Regions from separate parts of the Homo sapiens genome. Here regions 1 and 3 are each linked to region 2. The links come from fine-mapping of genetic effects on gene expression. A gene starts in region 2. Each other region holds a variant in brackets. All regions are shown on one strand. Distances are between the middles of the regions.

Region 1 (7,042 bases), 36 kb after region 2:
TCACACAGAATGCATCTTTCTTCATGCAGCGCGAGGTTCTTGAATAGCCAAAATGCCCAAGCATGATGCAAAGCCCTTTTAAGAGTTATTTATCATTAAACCTCACATTGATCTTAAGAAACAGGAAGATACGGTTGAGGGTACAGGCTCAGAAAGGTTAAGTGATTTGCCCAAGGCCACATGAAGGACCTGAATCAAGGTTTTCTGGCTCCAAATTCAGAGCGTTCTGTTATACTCTCCTAGTTTTATTGATCATGGTACTGCGCAAGACTTTTCAGGAGAGTTTGGTCATCTCCCATGATGCCAACTCCAGAAGATTAGGAGTGGGCCCCTGTGCGAACAGGAGGTTGTTCTGGGGTCCATGAGAGGCGGCGGTCACACTTCCTAACACGTTCAGCTGACGCTGGTGCAAATAGGACAAAGGAGGGGCTCTCACCCCAAACATTCCAGTCAGGGGGACGGAACTTGGTGTAAGTGAGGGGATATGGGGGCAGCAGGGAGCCCAACCTTGCCAGGAGAGCTCAGAAGAGGTCTCATGGTGTGTGTGTGTGTGTGTGTGTGAGAGAGAGAGAGAGAGAAGAAAGTTGAAGAGTGAAAGCCCATAGTTGCTTAAGGCAGGAGAACTGATGGGTGAACTTTGCTATTATTTGCTACACTCTGGGAAAGTGTTTTATTCTTAGCCCATGTCTCTTCCCAGCATGCACACACTCACACTCATACGCTCACACACTAACAGATACACACACTCAGACATACTCCCACACTAACACTCAGACACATACTAACACTCAGACACCCACTCACACTCACACACACTCCCACACACTAACACTGAGACACACACACTAACCCTCAGACACACACTCACACACTAAATGCAGACACACACACACTAACTCTCAGACACACATACACAGTCACACATACTCAGACACATACACATACACTCAGACACACGCGAACACGCAGACACACACACTCACACTAACACTCAGACACACATACGCAGTCACATATACTCAGACACACATACTTACACTCAGACACACAAACTCCCACGCACTCACACACACACTAACACTCAGACACACATACACAGTCACACATACACTCAGACACACACACACTAACAGTCATACTCCCACACACTCACACACTTGCTCACTTGTACCCACTTCCCTCCCTGCTCTCGCCTGCCTGGTTGAGGGGTCCACAGCCACGCAAGACCACCCCACGCCACTGCGGGGCGCCAGGCATCAGCTTTCTGAGCCCTGAGTGGGGTCCGGTCCTCTCCCCTTGGGCTTTTTGGTTTTGGTCTTAGAAATGTTCGGGGAGCCATGGGGGTCATCCTGTGCCCTCCTCCTGGTCTGTTCACCAAGCTCAAGAGGGAAGACAAGTGATCAGAAATCCGCAGATAGTGAGCAACAGCGGGAAAGGACTCACCAGGAAGGAGGCAGCCAAGAAAGAGCAGTGAGTGGAGAGGCAACATGTGCCACGGCGCACCCCGAGGGGAGGATGCACCCTCCAGCGAAGGCTGCACCCCCAGGGAAGGGCTCACCCTTGAGTGAAGGCTGCACCCCGAGGGAAGGGTTCACCCCAAAGCTGCACCCAGAGGGAAGTGCTCACCCTGAGGGAAGGGCGCACCCCAAGGGAAAGTTTCACCCCGAGGGAAGGGCTCACCCCTAGGGAAGGGCGCACCCTGTGGTAAGGGCTCAACCCGAGGGAAGGGCTCACCCCGAGCAAAGGCTGCACCCAGAGGGAAGTGCTCACCCCGAGGGAAGGGTGCACCCCAAGGGAAAGATTCACCCCGAGGGAAGGGCTCACCCCAGGGAAGGGCTCACCCCTAGGGAAGGGCTCACCCCGAGGGAAGGGCGTGGCTGTGTGGCCCAGTCACCACCTTGATTAGAGGCTCCTCATCTGGACCTCTGCAGAGAAAGGGGGCCGACAGTAAGCATTTTATTTCATTTTTGGTTTTTGTTTGTTTGTTTTGAGACAGGGTCCTTCTCTGCTGCCCAGGCTGGAGTGCAGTGGTGCAATCTTGGCTCACTGCAGTTTCAACTTCCCAGCTTCAAGCAATCCACCCACCTCAGCCTCCCAAGTAGCTGTGACCAGAGGCATGTGCCACCATGTTCAGCTAATTTTTTAAATTTTTTGTGGAGACAGGGTTTCGTCATGTTGCTCAGACTGGTTTTGAACTCCTGACCTCAAGCCTTCTGCCCGCCTCAGCCTCCCAAAGTGCTGGGATTAGAGGTGTGAGCCACCGCACCCAGCTAAATTGTAAACATTTTCAGTGTGAAGGAATTAGTTTACATTAAAGATGTTTCCTATGGTTGGTGATTTTGGAGGGTGATTTGGGCTAAGGCTGATGGGAAGGGGAGGGCCGTGAAAGTGGCACCCCATTGACAGACGGTGTTGGCAGGCTGGTCTGCAGGTCTTCCGGTCTCTGTCAAACATCCACAGACAAGACAGAGCAACATGGAGAGGTCCAGGCCCACATGGAGATGCATTTATCTAGCATTTTCTCCTTAAGCAGAAAAGATGAGCTCGCAAAAAAAAAAAAACCAGCACGACATTGACCTTGAAATTCCATCATTATTGTAATTGATCACAAGTCAGCTGATCACTAGGCAACTCCGCTTTCATCACCAACTGTGCAAGGCCAGGAAATCCACACGTGCCCTCCTCCTTGTGTGGTAGACGGCCGCCAAGATCGCATTCTTTAGATCACGCCGAAAAATCTCTGCTGACATTTTCATGTCAAACAGGAGTATGTGCTTACGGAGGAAAGAACCACTTACGGTTCTCAGTGGGAGGTGGCAGAACACAGCTCTGGGTAACTGAAGCAGAAAAGGAATTGTTAAAAGAGTATTTAAATATTCCTTTAAATTATTAAAGCGATTATTAAAAGAATTATATATTGTCTAGCTCAAGGAATGGAGGTGGCGTGGGGAGGAGAACGAGTTTCCTAGCCTACCACAGCGAGAAAGATGCTGGGAAAAAGGACACTGGGACCCGCTCAGGGAAGTCTCTACCACCAGCACTACTGGCTGCACACACAGAAGGGACCTCAGGCTAGAGGCTGCAGGCTGCCGCTAGACCTGCTGACACCTCTGCCCATGGGAACGGCGTGGCCATCCAGGGTGGTGTCTGAGCCGTCTGAGTTCTGGGAGTCACTAGCTTCCCGGCAGGGTAGGCTTGCAGCTAGGCTCATGGGTGCGAGTGCCCCTGTGGGCAAAGCGAGTGCTGGCCTCTGCACTTTCTGAATGTAGTGTAGCTACGTTCAGATCCTGTGTCACGAGTTGGAGGATTCACCAAACACTGGGAAGGATTTCAGATGCCTGGTGGCCAAAAAAAGGATGGCAATGTCCACTGTGGCAGAAAAGCTCTCTGGAAGTCCAGGAACCACTGCTGGAAAGCTGCTGTTTAGGAGCTGGGTCAGTGCAAGAATGAGAGGGCGCCCTGTGTGGCTGCAGGTGACACATTCAGGGCACAGCCAGGGAACACAGTCCAGCCAGATCAAATGGCCTGGCCCAGAGCACCATTATTAAGTTTTACTATGGAATTGTGCTTGTGAAGTAAAGGGCGTTCTAGACCGTGTTGGGAATATGCACTGAACACAGAAGAATACGCTAAACTGAAATACTGTAGGCTGCTGTGACCAACCTTTTCTGGGAATGTGCAGAATGTACAGAACTTGAGACCTTAAAGTGAGGGCAACTGATGCTCTCGTCATCCTGGAAGCCGGAAGTTTGAAGTCAAGGTGTCGGCAGGGCAGGCTCCCTCCGAGGGTGGGAGGGAGAGTCTGTTCCAGGCCTCTCT[A/C]CTGGCATACTATGGTGGCTTGGTGTCTTTGGTGTTCCTTGGCTGTGGACATGTCACCCCCAGCCCTGCCTCTGTCCTCTGGGGTCTTCTCCCTGAGAGTCTATGTCTTCACAGGGTGTGGCATCTTCTGTCTGGAAAACAGGTTATCTGCTTCCCAAATGCCATGGTGGGACAGGCAGAAGAAAGCCAGTCCCCTTCCAAAGGGGAGAAACTGGAGGGAAGACGCTGTCTCGGGTCCTAAGCAACACCCCAGCCCCACAGGGCAGGTTCCACTGGGTTCAGGGCCTGCGGTGACTGTGTGGCGTGTGCTCTGTGCCCTGCACCCCTGCACCAGGCTGGAGTCGAGGCTGAGATTCACAGCAGGGCACAGCCTGAAGGAGCCACTGAGCCGTCTGCGAAGACACAATGTCAACAGTGGAACGGTCTGGGCCCCCTTCTGAGGAATAAAGACCGCAGCCTCCAGCCAGGAAGCAGGAGACTTGTTAACTCTGACTCCAGACATCACGTCCAGGGAAAACGAGGCTGGCGGAAAGGTTTCATCCTGATATTCTACAATCAAACTTCCTGACCACCGACGCACAGAGACGATGATGACACTTGTAGTTTAGGCTATAACCGAGAGGACACCGGTCCTCAAGATTTAGGGGAGTGGAGAGCAGGGATAGCAGATGCGTGTCCTGAGTGCCAAGCATCGGTCAGGATAAAGCTAAGCTGCTGAAACCTGAAAACGTGGGTGCTGCTCGCTGACAAGACAGCTCCTGGGGGCCGGCCCGGGTCAGGGGTGCAGGCCCAGGCTGCCGTCCAGGGACCCAGGTTCTCCTGGGCTGGGATCTGCCACTTTCAGGGCAGAGTCCTCCTTGTGGCCCACTGTGGCTCCTGCTGGCTGGAGGGGGAGAGTGGAAGGAGGTGCTAACTGCATGGAGGCTGCCCCAACCTCATCCCCATGGACGAGGGCAGGAGTCTGGGTGGAGAGCTTGCAGCCACTGTTATGCAGACCCTGCTGGCTGCTGCACTGGTCACATAGTAGTAGGTACTTTGTGAACACATGATTGCTCATAAATCAAAGCACAGCAGAGGCCAGCCCTCATCACAACGGAGCAGGTGGCCTCCTCCAGCCCACGCTGCACTTACTGCCTCTGGGAGGCTCTGTCCTGTGATTCTGTGGAGTGGCAGTCGGCAGCTCAGTACTTCCTGCACTGGGCTTGCTGGCCACACATCCCAAAAGCAGGGGCCTGAGGGCATGAGCAGGAAGGACATTGAGGAAAATGCAAAGGACCTGAGAACAGGCTGGGGACACGGGTCACTAGGTGATTGCATTACCCGGAACCTAGTCCAGCGATGCCTCCTTTAGGTCAGAGAAGGGTTCCCAGGGCCAGGGAGTGTTTACAAGAAAACTCCCTTGGCAATGAGCCTATACTATAACTTGGGGATATGATTTTGGCACCGTGAACCCAAACCAAGCTATGGGTAGATGGGGATGTGGTAGGGCCCCACTGTTCACCTGGCAGTTCAGATGAGCTCCTTGGCCATCATCCTGTAATAAGACTGATGGCATGGAAACAGACGGTGTTGCATCACTGAGAAAAGATTAGGATGGCTCTCATGAGGACCCAGGTCCATACGTATCACCAATTGAGAGACTTGCTGACGGCCCTCAGACAACAGCAGGGTGCCCATCCCCATCTGTCCTCACCCATCCCTCAGCCTCCACACGGCCCAGGTGTGACACCCTGAGTTTGCAACGAAACAAGGAAAGGAAAATCAGTGACCTGGACACTCAGCTCTTAGGATATTGTCCTTATAGTGGTTATATCTACATATGCGTGTGCTGCATGCATCTCCAGAGCTCTGTTGTGTGAGTACACACACATCCACACACACACAGAGAAGAGAGAGAGACACAGAGAGACAGAGAGAGAGAGAGGAGGAGGAAGAAGAAGGAGGAGGAGGAGGGGAGGAGGAGGAGGAGGGGAGGAGGAGGAGGAGGGAAGGAGGAGGAGGAGGGAAGGAGGAGGAGGAGGGAAGGAGGAGGAGGAGGGAAGGAGGAGGAGGAGGAGGGGAGGAGGAGGAGGAGGGGAGGAGGAGGAGGAGGAGGAGAAGAAAGAAGTCCAGAAACATATTCATGTAAATTTAGGCTGTGTTTCTTCCTGGAGGTATATTGAAAGAACAAGTCTACAAAAATTATATACATATAGGCCGGGCATGGTGGCTCACGCCTGTAATCCCAGCACTTTGGGAGGCCGAGGCAGGTGGATCGCAAGGTCAGGAGATTGAGACCACCCTGGCTAACACGGTGAAACCCCATCTCTACTGAAAATACAAAACATTAGCCGGGCATGGTGGTGGGTGCCTGTAGTCCCAGCTACTCGGGAGGCTGAGGCAGGAGAATGGCGTGAACCCAGGAGGTGGAGCTTGCAGTGAGCCAAGATCGCGCCTCTGTACTCCAGCCTGGGCGACAGAGCGAGCCTCCGTCTCAAAAAAAAAAAAATTATATACATATAAAACAAGGCTTTAATCCCTTACAATGCCATTGCATTACTTTTGTAATCAGAAAAAATATAATTGTGGTACAAATCAAAGTTTAGGTTGAAATATTCATGTCATTGGGATTATTTTCCAGCTTGAATTCATCCACATGATGTCTTCCACTGGATCTTCACCCTGGGCAGGCCCAGTGTTACTCATGCGTGTGGTTGGAAGGAGCCCAAAGAATGTGCCTACTCTGAAATAGTTGCTACCACCAGGCCTGGTAAGGGCCTGACATTCACAGCCTTAGGGACTGTCTTTGAGATTAGGGCATAGTGTCTCTCTCCAAGATCACGACTACAAAGCAAAACCATGCCACATGTCCCCTGCAGGGACGGCTCCCTGGGGAGGCCTTGGGAGCACAGTGGCACAGCCAGATGGAGACAGACCTGGAAGTGACCTGGGGAGGGCAGGGGCTCGAGCCAGTGGGAGACCGTGGGGGTGGGTAGGAGGCAAGATGGGGACAGCCTGAGGCGAGATGGCCGCGACTGCTCAGGCCGAATGAGGACACATCAGGAGCGAGGATCCTAGGAGGGTCTCATAGGACGAGCCTCCTGTGTGTGGCTGGGTGTGGACGGCTGAGTCCCTTGGCCACCAGCCACGTGTGGGATCAGCCCAGCCGGCCTCTGGGTCGTGTCTGTGCATCTCAGTGGATCATCGGTGGGAGCTTTCCGGGGAGGCAGAGGGGCTCTTCCTG
Region 2 (7,042 bases):
TGCACATGGGCAAGTACGGGGCGAGACAGCCCCACACAGGCTTCGCTTATTCTCCATCTGGTTCCCGCATGGTCAAGCCTCAAGCTGCGGAAAGAACACCAGACCAAGAAGAGAAAACTCAGCCTCAAATCCCAGCTTGCCCTCTGATGGGACGTGGCTCTGCATGTTTGTTTTCTCATGTGTAAAATTATAAGGATTATGTAACTGGGACACAGAGAAAGAGATCACTGTGGTCTGGAATAGTTATTCTTTATAGACACGAACTTGGAATTTGGACAGGTGGGAAGGAATGGCATTCCAAAAGAGAAGTAAAATGGCAAAGATGAAGGCAGGAATGAATGTCTGTAGGGGGGAGTGGGGTGCCGGCCCGTGGGGTTGGATGCTGGGACACAAGGGTCACTGTGTCCCAGGGCTCTTGAGAACCCTGCAATTGTTTCACCTCAGTGTAGTATGAAAGAAATATACATTTTAGGTTCAACTGAGAAACAAGAAACACAGTTTGCATCAAACATTCAGATAAAAAATGTTGTTTTCAATTTATTATACTTCATCAGGTTCTAATTTTGGAGTTCTGAAAAATGGACCCCCCAAATTAACTTTACTTCACTATAGCTTAATAAATAAATAGGTAAAAAACATACTATGAAAAATTTTACTTATGCTCTTGGCTGATGGTTTAAAAAAAAGTAGAATATGAGAGTATGAGAAATTGTCCAGATATTCCTAGAAACCCTTGAGGATCCAATTACAAATACTGAAGGCTAAACTATTTCATTTCTAAGATCAAGTTTTTGGTTAAAGGAAAGAAACTATTCTGCCAAATGTATATGAAACATGGAATTTTAAATCTAGATATAGTTCTCAAAAAATGTTCAATTAGTACAGCCACATAAAGTGTTTCGAAAAACGAAAGAGGATCCCGTCCCTCCGAGAACAAATATGAAAACATTCTACCCACTACTTAATAATTACAGACACCTGTCCTAGTTCTTCAACACGGAGCCCTCTGTTAATCTGCTACAAACCTCTCTGCTGCTTGCTGTTTTCAGTGAGTCAACTGAGGCAATGTGTTTCCACAGTGCAGGAGACACACCTACCAAGGCAGCAGGAGCAGTTACCAACGATGGCTTGGCCCCTTTCTACCTGCGCACCCTTGGATGTGACTTCACCTGTGATTCAGTTGCCACATCTATAAATGAAGCTACACATGGTATTGCTGTAAGGAATGAACACAGCAAAGCATCTGAAGCCTATGGTCAGCAGTCAGCTGACAAACGTCAGCCACAAAGCAAACAGGATGCTCCCTGCACTGCACTGGAGTCACTGACATACTGGTTTGTTTTCCCCACCAGACTCTAAGCTGCTTAAGGATAGGGGCTTGTGGTGCTCACTTTTGGATTAACATTTCAACAGCTTATAGAGTTGAGGTTGCAGAAAGCACCCGACAAGCTCGTTAAATAAACAAATGCTGTGTGACTACAGGAGCAGTAAGTGATCTGCTGAGCCAAGATCAACTCAACATTTCTATAAAAGCGGTTCAATGATAGCCAAGAAAGTCTAGTACACACACCCAGCAGTCCCCGTGTCCACAGTTCAGACTGACTCAGTGTTACGTTGTACAGCATCTATGCTACTGCTTGGGTGTACGAAAATCTAAACGCCGTAAGGGGGTTACTCTTTTCCTTAAGAACGTAATCTACAGAGCTCTAACAGTTCAGGGTGTAGGCGGTTTGGCTTCAGACCACAGTTTACTCAGCGACCCGGCAAAAGGAAGTGCTGAGAAGTTGCTCCCCTGGCAACCGCCTCCTGAACCCATGTGACGGGTTTGTTTTCAGTTATCCAGCAGGGTAGCATGTTTGCTGCCGCGACCAATGGCCTTTCAGTCCCGCTGCTCACCAGTTCCCCAGGCGGCCAATCCGGGGCGGCTGGCGCGGGATGACAGCTGGGGCTGTACCCGGACGCCAGGAGGGAAGGGCCCTCAGTCAGCTTGGCACAGCACCTGCTTGAACAGCCAATTATCTCCCTGCCTCATCTCCATCACTGTGCTTCCTCAAACTTCAGAGAGCTGTGGCCCGAACCCGCCCTCGGGGGTGCCAGGTCCTCTCTACCCCTCCTTCATTTCTCTAAATCCCAAGACTGGAGATGCACACTTTCAATCTGTGGATAGTTCCAGTTTCAAATGCATGTTTCTTATAGGCTGAAAAGTACTTTCAACCGAAAAGACACCCTTTTTACTTCCAGAAGAACCAGGAGGGGTACTCACCAGCTGCTGTCCCGCAGCAGGGAGGGACCCACCAGGCGGAGGAAAAGATGGTGGCGATCACCTCCTCGGGGAAGAGAGTGACATTCCTCTGGATCTGCAGCAGGTTGAGCACCAGGGCTAGGACCACCCCAACCGAGAAGAGCACGAGGCTCCTCTGCAACAGGCGATGATGCCAGGTGTTGGGGTAGGGGCTGCCGGGCTCGGGGCCGCTCATCGCAGCACTGCGGCCCCTGGGCGCGGGGTCAGCGTCCGGGGCACCGTGGGCCGCCAGCAGGGAGGGCCCGGACACGGAAACGTTGATCATCTCCCCAACCTTGGCCGCCAGCCCCGCGGCGCTGGCTCGCGGGGGGCCTCGGCGCCTCGCGCTGTGCGCACAGGAGCAGCTCCAGAAGTGGTCGTGCAATCTGGGCATCGGTCACACGCGTCCAAGAGGCGCTTCCTGGAAGAAGGGGGTCATCAAGTTCACTCAGAAGAGACAAAGAGCGAGGAAGGCCCCGCGGGACGCGAACCCCGGCACCCGGGCCAGGCGGCAGCGCCGCCCCCCAAGGTTAGACCCCCGTGCGCCCGCCCGGGGCCAGCGGCGGACGGGACCCGCGCTCACAGCGAGCAGCATCCCCGGCCCCAGCGGGACCCGCGTCCCAAAGACCCAACAGGGCCCGCGCCCGCCTACCTCCGGGGAGGACCGGCTGCTGCGCGACCAAAGCCCGCCCGCGACCCCTATCCCAGCCGGCCGCGTACCTGGCCGAGAGGCGCCCGCCCGCCGGCTCTCCGAACGGAGGCGGGGCGGGGGAAAGGAGGAGTCACGGCCCGGGACGGCCGCAGCGCCTGGCGGGCGCGCGGGTTTATATGGCGGGCCGCGGGGCCCGCATCACGTGAGCCTGCCCGGCCTACCCACCGCCCGCGCGCACCGCCCAGGGGCGTGGCCTGAGCTTGCCCCGCCCCGCCCGCGAGCCCGTCCGCACGCGGTCTGGTGAGGCGGCCGCAACCAATGGGAGGCCGGCGGCCCATATGACGTGCGCACACGCCACCGCCGGCCCGCGCGCACTCGGGCGGGAGCCTCGGCACGGACTGCGGGGCGCGTGGCGGCTGCGGGGCACGCGGGCCCGAGCGGGACTGGCCGGCTGCGAGTGGGCGGCCGCGGAGCTGGGGCCTGGGAGGGGACGGTCCTGCCGGGAGGAGGCGGAGGCAGGACAGGGTGGGGTTGCGGGCCCGGCGCCGCCCCTCCCGGCTCCTGGCTCCCCTCGCCTGGTGTCCCGCGCCTGGCCGGGAGGCGGCGGGTCTCGATCGCGCGGGCCTCCCTGGAGGGGCGCGGGCTCTGGCGGCGGGGAGGCCCCTGCTCAGCGCAATGGCGGGCTTGCATCCTTGGGTGATTTTTTCGGGCCCCTTGTGGCCTTTGCTCACGCCTAGAGAGCAAACCACCCGCACCACCCAGGAGCAGATAAAATCGAGACCACAGCCTCCAAGGGAGCGCGCCTCCATCCTGTTTGCCCCTCGGGTCGCCGTCTGAGGGCGGGCCCGTGCCCGCTCAGAGCCTACATCCGAGTCGTATAAAGCGCTGACAGCAGAGAAAGCTGCGGCTTTGCTCCGTGCAGATGAGCAGGGGCTGAGGGAGGACGCTGTGCTCTCAGTAGCCGCGCTTGGCCCGGGGACCCTGCAGGCTTAGAAACGTGAGTCACGCCTGCAGCGTGGCGAGGAAACGCCGTTGATGTGGCATCCTCAGCCTGGGGTTGTGGCTTTAAGCCAGAAGGTCAAAAAAAGAAGTCTTCCTGAGCTGAGACTGCCCTGAGTCGCTTTAGGGGCGAAATTCCGAGCATCCGGTTGCATTTCCTGAGGATGACACGCGTGGTGGGTGTGGACGGCCTACAGGGGTCCATCCTCAGCGGCCCCTCTGCAGGGCAGTCTCGCTCTCACTCTCCCAGCTGACTCCTCTCAAGCCTGTTAACCATTGTACACGTTCCCAAGGACTCCAAGCAGGTTGGACTTCAGGGAACATTGCAGTTTGGGTCTTGGCCATTGTTTACACTCCACCTTGCATAAGTGCTTGAGGATCACACAACCAGATACGTAGATCATCCGTAGATCATCGCAGTCACATCGAAGATTTGTTTATAATAGGAAAAAAAAAAGCTACCCACTGTCATGCGCTGGGAAACTAGTGAGCTGAAGGATGACCCATCTGTAAATGGGGTGCTCCCTAATGGACAGGGCACCTTTCAGAAGCCTGTGCTGTGTCTCCTCGACCCCACTGTGAGCTCCCCGTCCCGCACGCTGATCTAAATCAAGCTGCTAACCTCATGGAGAGGCGTCCGCACGGGAGCCCCGGCCCTGAGATGCGGGGCAGTCACCCATTCAATTAGGAAACACCAGCAAGTGCCAGAAGCTTCTCATTAGCAGGTCAGCTTTCAATAACTGGTTTATCCAGGTGTGTGAGACCCGATAAGCAGAAGGGAAAGCTCTTAGCGACCTATCCAGCTGCTCTGCACTGGGCTCCTGACATCCCAGAAATCAGTACATCTGTCTTCTGGGGTCCAAGAGGTATTTCAGTTTCTCTGGCTTTGTTTCCCGTCATTTGTACCTGGCCCTGCAGACTACCCCAGTATTTCCATCATAATACCCCTGTGGGCAGGTGCATACCTCATGACAATATTTAATATTAATAGATTTATGTGTTGTCTCCAGAATGGAAAGGGGCTGTCTATTCCTTGAGCTAGTTGGCTTGCTAAAGACTATTGACTTCATTCTTCTTTTCCTATCTACCTAATAAACCAGTGTTCATACAACCCAGCCTCTCTGACTCTGTCCCTCCTCTCATCTGTACTGGGACATTATGAACCATGGAAGATCCTGGAGTCATAGAGGCACCCTGTGGCTCTGTGGCTGTTGCACTTACACCGACCAAGATGTCCCGTGGGAATGTGGGAAGGTTGCCCGTGGGGTTCCTGCTGAGGGCCTCCAGCGTGGCCTCTGAGTCGTAGGTAGAGATTGTCACTGCGTTCCCAATGTGTGTTTGCCCAGGTGCCTGTGGAGTCTGGCCCCATGAAGAAATGCAGCCTGGGGTAAAGACAGTGGGAGAGTTTGAGTTTACCCCCTTGAATACCCCCTTTGAAGACCGAGCCTCCATATCAGTAACCACATTCCAAGATTTTCAGGGGTTGAAATTTGCTTATCCTCAAGCAAAGCTGTTGTTGATTTTGTTTCCCTGCTAATCGTGGGCCGTGTGTTGAAGATAATGGGGTTCATTCTCTTCAGCCCCTGTCAGCCACTCTGAGTTCAGCATTTAGGGAAATCTGCTCATGATGGCACCGTTTAGTTCTTAATTGCCCCACAATACAGAAATCATCACAGATGTGGCCTTACTCTAGGGGAGTTGACTATTGTTGAGTTAAACACCTCGCCGTGCCTTCCCAGATCACTAAGTAACCCTCAGACTGGTGGCCTCTGTACTGAACAGGCTGGCGGAAGGGAGCACAGGACGGCTGTAGCTCTTTCGGATACGGAAGAATCATGCACTCATAAAGGCCTAAAGACTGGGAGGTGTCACGTAGTGAGCAATCTTGCCTTTAGTCTGTTCTTACTGTTCTTTTTATTATAACATTAATAACCATTTGTAAGAAATATTCTTAAGATAAAGTAGATTACCAAATATATATTTTTTCATATAAAAGCATCACATGCTCATTGTAAAACATCGTGGAAAAATATATTTTAAAGAAATAGTCTATAATCCTACCAACTAGAGATGACCATTGTTAACATTTTGAGGTATGTATTTCCAAATATTTTTTCTATCCATAAATGTGTTTAAAAAAACACAAATAGGATCAACTTCACATTAGTGGAACCAGTTATTAAGTGATCATGAACGTCTTTTAAAGGCAATCAATACAGACTACGCCATTTTTTAATAGCTTTAGTGAGGGCGAATTCATGCATTGTGCAATTCACCCATTTAAACGGTGAATTCAGTGTTTTTTTGTGTATTCACAGAGTTGTACAACTATCATCACAGTCCATTTTAGAACATTTTCATCACCCCAGAAAAGACCTTCATATGCTTTAGTTATTGCCTCCTTATCCCGACTTCCACCCCCAGCCCACGGCAACCACTGATCTACTTCCTGTCTCTATGGATTTCCTGTTCTGGACATTCGTATGAATGGAATCGTATAATATGTGATGTTTTGTGACTGGCTTTGTTGACATAATGTTTTCAAGGTTCATCCATGTCATAGCATATGTCAGCACTTCATCCCTTTTTATGGCTGAATAATGTTCCATTGTATGGAGAGGCCACATTTTGATTATCCGTTCACCAGCTAGTGGACGTTTGGGTTGTTCTCACTTTTCGGCTATTACGAATGATGTTGCTATAAATGTGCACAAGCTCATCCATGTGGGTGTAGCTCTTCATTTCTCTTGGGTGGAGTTACTAGGAGTGCACTTGCTGGGTCACATGGTAACTCTATGTTTAATCATTTGAGGAACTGCTGGACTTTTTCCAAAGCAGCTGCATGATTTTAAACCTCCATCAGCAGGGTATGAGGGTTCTGATTTCTCCACATCTTTGCCAACACTTGTTATTCCTTGAGTTTTTGATTCTAGCCATCTCAGTGGATGTGAAGTGGTATGTCATCGTTTTCAAAAGCAGAATAGTGTTTGTCTATGAAGGGAAGTGCCTTAGCTTACTTGCCATGAAAGCACAATCCCCCAAGAGTGAGGGAAAGAGGTGAGTGAAGCAGTGAAGGAGAAGCTATGGTGAGGGTCACCTCACTGAGCCGA
Region 3 (7,042 bases), 90 kb after region 2:
ACAGTGCAGTGAGTCAGAGACGGCACAGGTGGAATGAGACTAACTGTGGCCCCACCCTGGCCGGCAGCCCTGTGTTGCAGAGCATAGCACAGCCAGCAGGTGCCTGGGAGCACAGTGGGGAGGAGGGGAGGATGCCCACCTGTAGCTGTGACTGCTTTTCCTGGTGGTGGGGGAGGGAGAGTGTTCATATGGACCCAGGCCTGGGGCACTGGCCGTGTATTTATCCACAGAGGGACCAGGAGATGCAGGAGCCCTCCTAGTCTCCCCCTGCACCGCCCTCACCACCCACCCCCATGAGGAAGGGGCCGTCCCAGAAGATGCTAAGAGGCTCAGCCCCTCCTCCATGGAGTTTGGGAAGGTGACAGTGTTAAGGTAAACTCCAAGAGTCTCTGGGGTTGAACAGAAACCACCAGAAGATGTTGGGCAGCTTATGGGGGCTGTGTGGGTTCATGGGCTCCAGGATGCTCGGCCTCCCTTTCACTGTGGCGGTACTGGAGGCGCTGCTCACATGGCCGGCTCAGGCAGCTTGGGTAGACACCGCCAAGTGCAGGGGCAGGAACCTGCTAATAAGATGGGGGAGAGATGATGGTGATGGGGGTGGGGCGTCTCAGCAGGACTCCAGCTCCTCTGAGGCTCCTACCCCTCCAGCTCCCCCACCTCCCAGAAGGAATCCGGTTCCCAAACTGGGAGATGGTCCTGATTACCACGGAGCAATTAAGCAAGCTGCGGAGGAGAAGCCGTAGTGAAGACCCTCCCCACGCATGCTGTGTTTGCTCATAGGAGCAGGGGCATGAAAGGTGTGTGCAGGGTGCGGGGGAGGGGTGGGAATGGAGCAGGGTAGGGGGAAGGGAGCGGGGGAAAGAGGTTCCTGAGAAAGGAAGGCACCAGCGAAAATGAGAAGGTCCACGTGGCATAAACTTAGGGAAGAGAGGACAATACCCTCTCTTGTCATTATAAATCTGTAAAAATGAACATGCACACGGGCAGGAACAGGAGGCACAGGGCCGACGCCAACACGGATGGGGTTGGTGATGACATTGAGGGACCTCTGTCTTAGAGTCTGTTGTTCTTCAATACAGGTTTTGTAACAACAAAAAAGAAAGCTGGCTCCAAGTGTGGAAAGAAAGCAGAGGAAGGAACGGGTGGGGACCCTGTTGGCAGCTCTCCCTGAGGACGGGCCAGGATGGGGGGTCCTGGGGTCTGGGATTCTGACCCCAATCTTTAGAGCAGTCCCTAAGCCCCTTGCTCGCAGGGAGTGAAGCACCAGCAGGCATGGCTGCCAGGTCAGCAGACAGCCGACTCGGCTTCCTCGATGGGCAGCTTGCCCCGATGTCACGGCTGGCATTCACCGTGGCCCATGAAGGCGGTGGAGAGTGCCCCACAGGAGCAATCTGCCGCCAAAGGGGACGTGACGCCTGCCAGGAATGCCCAGCACACACCCAGTCTCGGGGCACCTGCCCTCACAGCTGGGGGGCGTCACCTATGTGCCCCGAATGTAGTAGATCATGTGGTGCCTGCACCAAGGCCGTGGCATGAAATTCAATAAAATTTCCCCAAATTCATTGTTCAGTCATGACTCATTTCCAAGGAAAGGAGTGAAATCCACCCTTCTTCCTTTGTTCTTTCTTCCTCCTTTGAAAGTGTCCCCATGGAGAAGCCCCCACTCCTACAGTCTTGAGAAAGAGCCTCTCACACACTCACACCCATTCCCACACACAGACACACTCATACACACACACATATTCCCACACACACTCACATTCCCCACTCACACCCATTCCCACACAGACACACTCATACACACACACCCATTCCCACACACACATTCCCCCCACACACCCATTCCCCACACACACTCACATTCCCACACACACTCACACCCATTCCCACACACACATTCCCACACACACCCATTCCCCCACACACACCCATTCCCACATACATTCCCACACACTCACACCCATTCCCACACACACATTCCCACACACATTCCCCCACACACACTCACACCCATCCCCACACACACATTCCCACACACATTCCCCCACACACACTCACACCCATCCCCACACAATTCCCACACACACTCACACCCATTCCCACACACACACCCATTCCCACACACCCATTCCCACACACACCCATTCCCACACACACTCACATTCCCCCACACACCCATTCCTACACACACACACACACCCATTCCCCCCCACACATACACACTCATACCTATTCCCCCACACACAGACACACACACACCCATTCCCCCCACACACCCATTCCCTCCCCCCACACACAGACACACTCAGGCCCATTCCCACACACACACACACCCATTCCCCCACAGACACACACACACTCTCACACCCATTCCCACACACACAGACACACACCCATTCCCCACACACAGACACACTCATACACACACACCCATTCCCACACACTCACATTCCCCCCACACACTCACACCCATTCCCACACACAGAGTCATACACACACACTCACACCCATTCCCCACAGACACACTCATTCCCCACACACAGACACACTCATACCCACACTCACACCCATTCCCACTCACACACTCACATGCCCACACTCACATTCCCCCCTCACACCCATTCCCACACACTCATGTTCCCACACACACACTCACACCCATTCCCACTCACACACTCACATGCCCACACTCACATTCCCCCCACACCCATTCCCACACACTCACGTTCCCACACACTCACACCCATTCCCACATACCCATTCCCACACACACTCACATTCCCACACACACATTCCCACACACACTCATACAGTCTCACACCCATTCCCACACACACACTCACATTCCCACACACTCACACCCATTCCCACACACACACACTCACACACTGTAACACACACACCCATTCCCACACACACACCCATTCCCACACAAGACACACACACCGATTTCCACACACACACGTACGCACACCCATTCCCACACACACCCATTCCCCCACACATTCCCACACACATGCACTCCCACACACACCCATTCCCACACACACTCATACACACTCACACCCATTCCCACACACAGACACACACACGCACGCACACACGCGTACACACACACATTCACACACAGTCACACACGTTAAGCCATTTTAACTTTAGCGCCTCAGCTCTCAGTCCCCAAATCACCTGCACACCCAGAGGCAGGGGCTACTCACAACGGAGCACCTTGGACAGAGGCAGGTAAACCCACTAAGCTGGATTCCTGGAGAAGCAGGAAAAAGCGGAGCCGTTTCTCCTTGAACATCCTAGATGCTCAGATAAAAGAGATGGAATCTCATTGGATGGATTTGAGGAAACCCCCAAAGCTGCTTCTTGAAAACATCAACCAGCGACCTGCCGTGTGCTGAGATTCTACCTGGCTCTTTGTTTTCAGGAAGTCTTCCTGAGAGAGCACACTGTTGGCGTTTTGCTGGGTAGATATCCCTTGGGGGGGTGTCCTACCTACTGAAGGGTGAATAGCAACCTTGCTCAACCATCACCCCAACAAAATCCAGGAGCACCCTCAGTCACTGTGACCCCCAAATGGCGTTTGTTGTATCCCCCAAATCCATATGTTGAAGTCTTAACCCCCAGGACCTCAGAATGTGGCTGTATTTGGAAACAGGGTCTTTCAAGAGGTAACTAAACTAAGATGAGGGCTTTGGAGTGGGCCCTAATCTAATCTGACCGGTGTCTTTAGGATGCAGTTTGGGTATTTGTCCCTGCCCAGATCTCATGTGGAAATGTGATCCTCAGTGTTGGAGGTGGGGATTGGAGGGAGGTGTTTGGATCATGGGGGTGGATCCCTCATGAATGGCTGGGCTAGCCTCTTGGTGATAAGTGAGCTCGAGCCCTGGGTTCACAGGAGTCCTGGTCTTTTAAAAGTGTGTGACACATCCCCCCTCCTCTTTCTCACTCCTGCTTCCCCCTGTGATGAGCTGGCTTCCCCTTCTTCTTCCGCCATGACTGGACGTTTCCTGAGGCCACCCCAGAGACAGATGACGTCACGCTTCCCGTACAGCCTGCAGATCCCTGAGCCAATTAAAGCGCTTTTCTTCATAAATTACCCAGCCTCAGGGACTTCTTTATAGCCAGGTGAGAACGGACTAAGAAGAAAAAGTTGGGAAGCAGACGCTGACAGAGGGATGACCACGTGAGGACACAGGGAGAGGATGGCGTCTGCAGG[C/T]CACGGAGGGGCCTGAGGAGGAACCAGCCCTGCCCACGCCGTGATCTCAGATTTCCGGACCTCAGGACTGCGGGGAAGGGAGTTTCTGTTGTTCAAGCTGCTCGGTCCACGGTACTTTGTTATAGAAGCCACAGCAGAGTTATATGCGTGTGTATGCGTGCACACACACACTCACACACACACACACAGACACTAACACACACGGACACACACTTTCTCACACACAGAAACACACAATGACACACACAGACACACTGACACACAGGCACAAACACACACACTCTGTCACACTGACACACACACACAAACACTGACACATTCACATACGGACACACTCTCGACCACTCACACACACTGACACACACAGACACACTGACACGCGGGCACACACAGACACACTCACGACACACAGACTCACGTACACTGACACACTCTCACGGACACACACTCTCGCACTCTCACACAGACACACACACTGATACAGACACACACGCTGACACACACAGAGACACACACACTGACACATCCACACAGAGGCCCCACATTTCTCAGCCTTTTGAGGTAGTACATTTAAATAGCATTTAAAATACCTATTAATTCATTAAAACACTCATAATCCTGTTATACGTCAGCGTAAATACCTTATGACAAATAGCCGACTGGAAACCACTGACTGAAAACCACAGAGTCAGCTCACGGAAGATGGCTGTTAAAATGCAAATGCACTTTGGGGAGGACATGGTGGCGTGAGTGTCAGGAAGGAGTGACTTGGCTTGTGAGTCAGCGTCTAGAAGGCGTGCGTCTGGCCTCTGAAGTCGGATGGGAGGGCCTGGGCTGCCTCCTGACTGCCACTTCCCTGCTGCGCGGCCTCCAGCCAGTGTCTCCACCTCCCTGCCCTTGGTCCGTAAATGGGGGGGTAATAGGACCCACTGCACGCGTTATAGGAGGGTCAAGTGGCTCCATATCTGCAAAGGGCTTAGGACAGCGCCTGGAAAGCACGCGGCGTCTGCCTTCCTCCGTCACTGGGAAGCTCGGGGGAGGGGCCACACGGACACAGGCTATTGGCTGAGGGAGCAGGGAGGGGCTGAGACACGATCTGGAGCCCGGGACTCACACATTGGGTCTGAAGAGCTATGGAGGCCACCACGGAGCATGCGTTTATGGGGGTTGAATGCAGCCACGATGCCACGTTAGAAATCACCAATGAGAAACACTAGAAATCGAAACTAAGAGCATTTAAAATACCTATTAATTCATTAAAACAATCATAAACCTGTCATACGTCAACGTAAATACCTTATGACGAACAGCTATATTTTCCAAAACAAAAAGCATTTAGGGGGAGGCATGGCATTGTCTTCGTGTCTGCAGAGCTCTCCAGTGTCTGACTTGGAAGAGCTGGGTTTTCCTGCCTGCTCCTGCATTCCACCTGCTTGCAGAGCATGGAGACAGTTCCGTGTGACACAGACATGCAGCTAGCAAAGTGGGTCCCTCAGGGGGTCTCGGGGATGTCAGGGTCCAGGGGCCTCCCTGAGGGCTTCTGATATGGTCTGGAAGGTGCTCCGCAGAGCCAGGGCAGTGGGCGTGCTGGGGAGCCAGGCTGGGGGGCTGGGCACCCCCTCCCTCATCCAGAGCAGCCCTATTCCTATCAGATACATGTCTTGGGCTCTGAGTCAAATGCTGTGTGTACAATAAAGTGGATACACCTGCTCTGGGGCCTGGGGCTACACTGGAAAGGTGAGGCTTTGGGATGGGATGGTGGAGGGGAACCGCTAGGGCCCTGGGAGATAAGGGCGAGAGGCCTCAGGTGTGCCCAGGTGGGAGAGCCAGGGCACCTGCAGTGCTGCTGGTCCAGTCCCAAAGCCAGCAGAGGCCCTGCTACCTCCACATGCTGGACTCCAGGAATTGCTCCTGGCAGCAGCAGGGAGCCCTGTGGAGCCAGGACACAGAGCCACATGGTGCGAGGGTGGCTGCTGCCAGGAGTGGAGAGGCGGCGTGCACATGGGTGACCTTGAGTGCACAGGTGCTGTGTGCCCACACAAGAGGTAGCTGGCCCACGGGGTGCTGCCCTCCCTCTGCCCCCCCAGCACACCTGGTCCACACACCTGCCCTGCTTCACCTGGTGCCACACCCTTGGGAGCACTGCTGAGGCCTAGAAGTCTTGGGCATGAGTGTGGCCTCCCGATAGGCAGGGCTCTGGCTCTCATCTGGGAGCACGGCAGAAGCTGTTGTCTGGGAGCACGGGTGTCCAAGCCCATGGAGAGCTGTCCCCCATGGAGAGCTGTCCCCCAGAGCCACCTCTTGCTGGAGGCAGAGCGCCTGCAGCAGGATGCGGGCCTCACATCTCAGGGCCTCGGCCTCCCTCGTGCTTACCCCTCCCACAGGCTCCTCTGCCCTTGCTGTCCTCACCTGGACCCTCCCCGAGATCCCCGAGTGCCCATCCCTTCACCAGGAGCCACTGGCCCAGTGTCTGTTTCCTGCCTCACTTTCCTTCCCAGGGTATCCCCTGCTGCCCTGCATGAGGCTTCTTTACCTGCTGTCTGTCCACCCCAAGGCAGGAGCTCCCTGAATGCTGGAGCACCAACAGCTCGGTCCCTGCAGAGTCCCAGCACCCAGTGAAGCCACTGTGAGGAGGACTTGGGCCTCAGGATGCACGTGCAGCCATGGAGACCCCACGGGGCGGCCCCTCGGATGATCCTGGCCTTCTGGGTGGTCCCCGAGGGTTTGTTTCTTTCTGGGACTTTCTAACAGGAGGTCCTGCTCCTTGCCGCCGACTCAGCCCTGCCTGTAGCTTCCACAGTGCGTCAGAAGTCACCG

What was found. PIP is the estimated chance that this variant, and not a neighbour inherited with it, causes the effect.
Region 1: its variant is fine-mapped to the expression of INSIG1 in whole blood (TOPMed, PIP 0.94).
Region 3: its variant is fine-mapped to the expression of INSIG1 in whole blood (TOPMed, PIP above 0.99).

What each region holds. Positions count from the first base shown.
Region 1 is chr7:155,257,887-155,264,928 of GRCh38, reverse strand. It overlaps LOC105375588 (a long non-coding RNA gene), which reads left to right. Exons shown (of 5, transcript XR_928227.3): 3 at 244-470; 4 at 1,322-1,470; 5 at 1,997-2,036. Among named protein-coding and RNA genes, the nearest start is that of INSIG1, 36 kb to the left of the region's middle. The variant A/C (reference allele first, on the strand shown) is at 3,820.
Region 2 is chr7:155,293,919-155,300,960 of GRCh38, reverse strand. It overlaps INSIG1 (insulin induced gene 1), which reads right to left and starts at 3,083. Exons shown (of 6, transcript NM_005542.6): 1 at 3,002-3,083; 2 at 2,264-2,702. The coding sequence starts at 2,675. It overlaps INSIG1-DT (INSIG1 divergent transcript), which reads left to right and starts at 1,981. Exons shown (of 2, transcript NR_183448.1): 1 at 1,981-2,810. RefSeq lists enhancers at 1,558-1,627, 4,038-4,087 and a silencer at 2,748-3,577.
Region 3 is chr7:155,203,652-155,210,693 of GRCh38, reverse strand. LOC124901783 (a long non-coding RNA gene) reads right to left here and starts at 4,990. Exons shown (of 2, transcript XR_007060603.1): 1 at 4,867-4,990. LOC124901786 (a long non-coding RNA gene) reads left to right here and starts at 649. Exons shown (of 2, transcript XR_007060606.1): 1 at 649-797; 2 at 1,080-1,562. RefSeq lists a silencer at 1,441-1,735 and enhancers at 1,370-1,879, 4,809-5,058, 5,089-5,158, 5,189-5,238, 5,249-5,428. The variant C/T (reference allele first, on the strand shown) is at 4,226.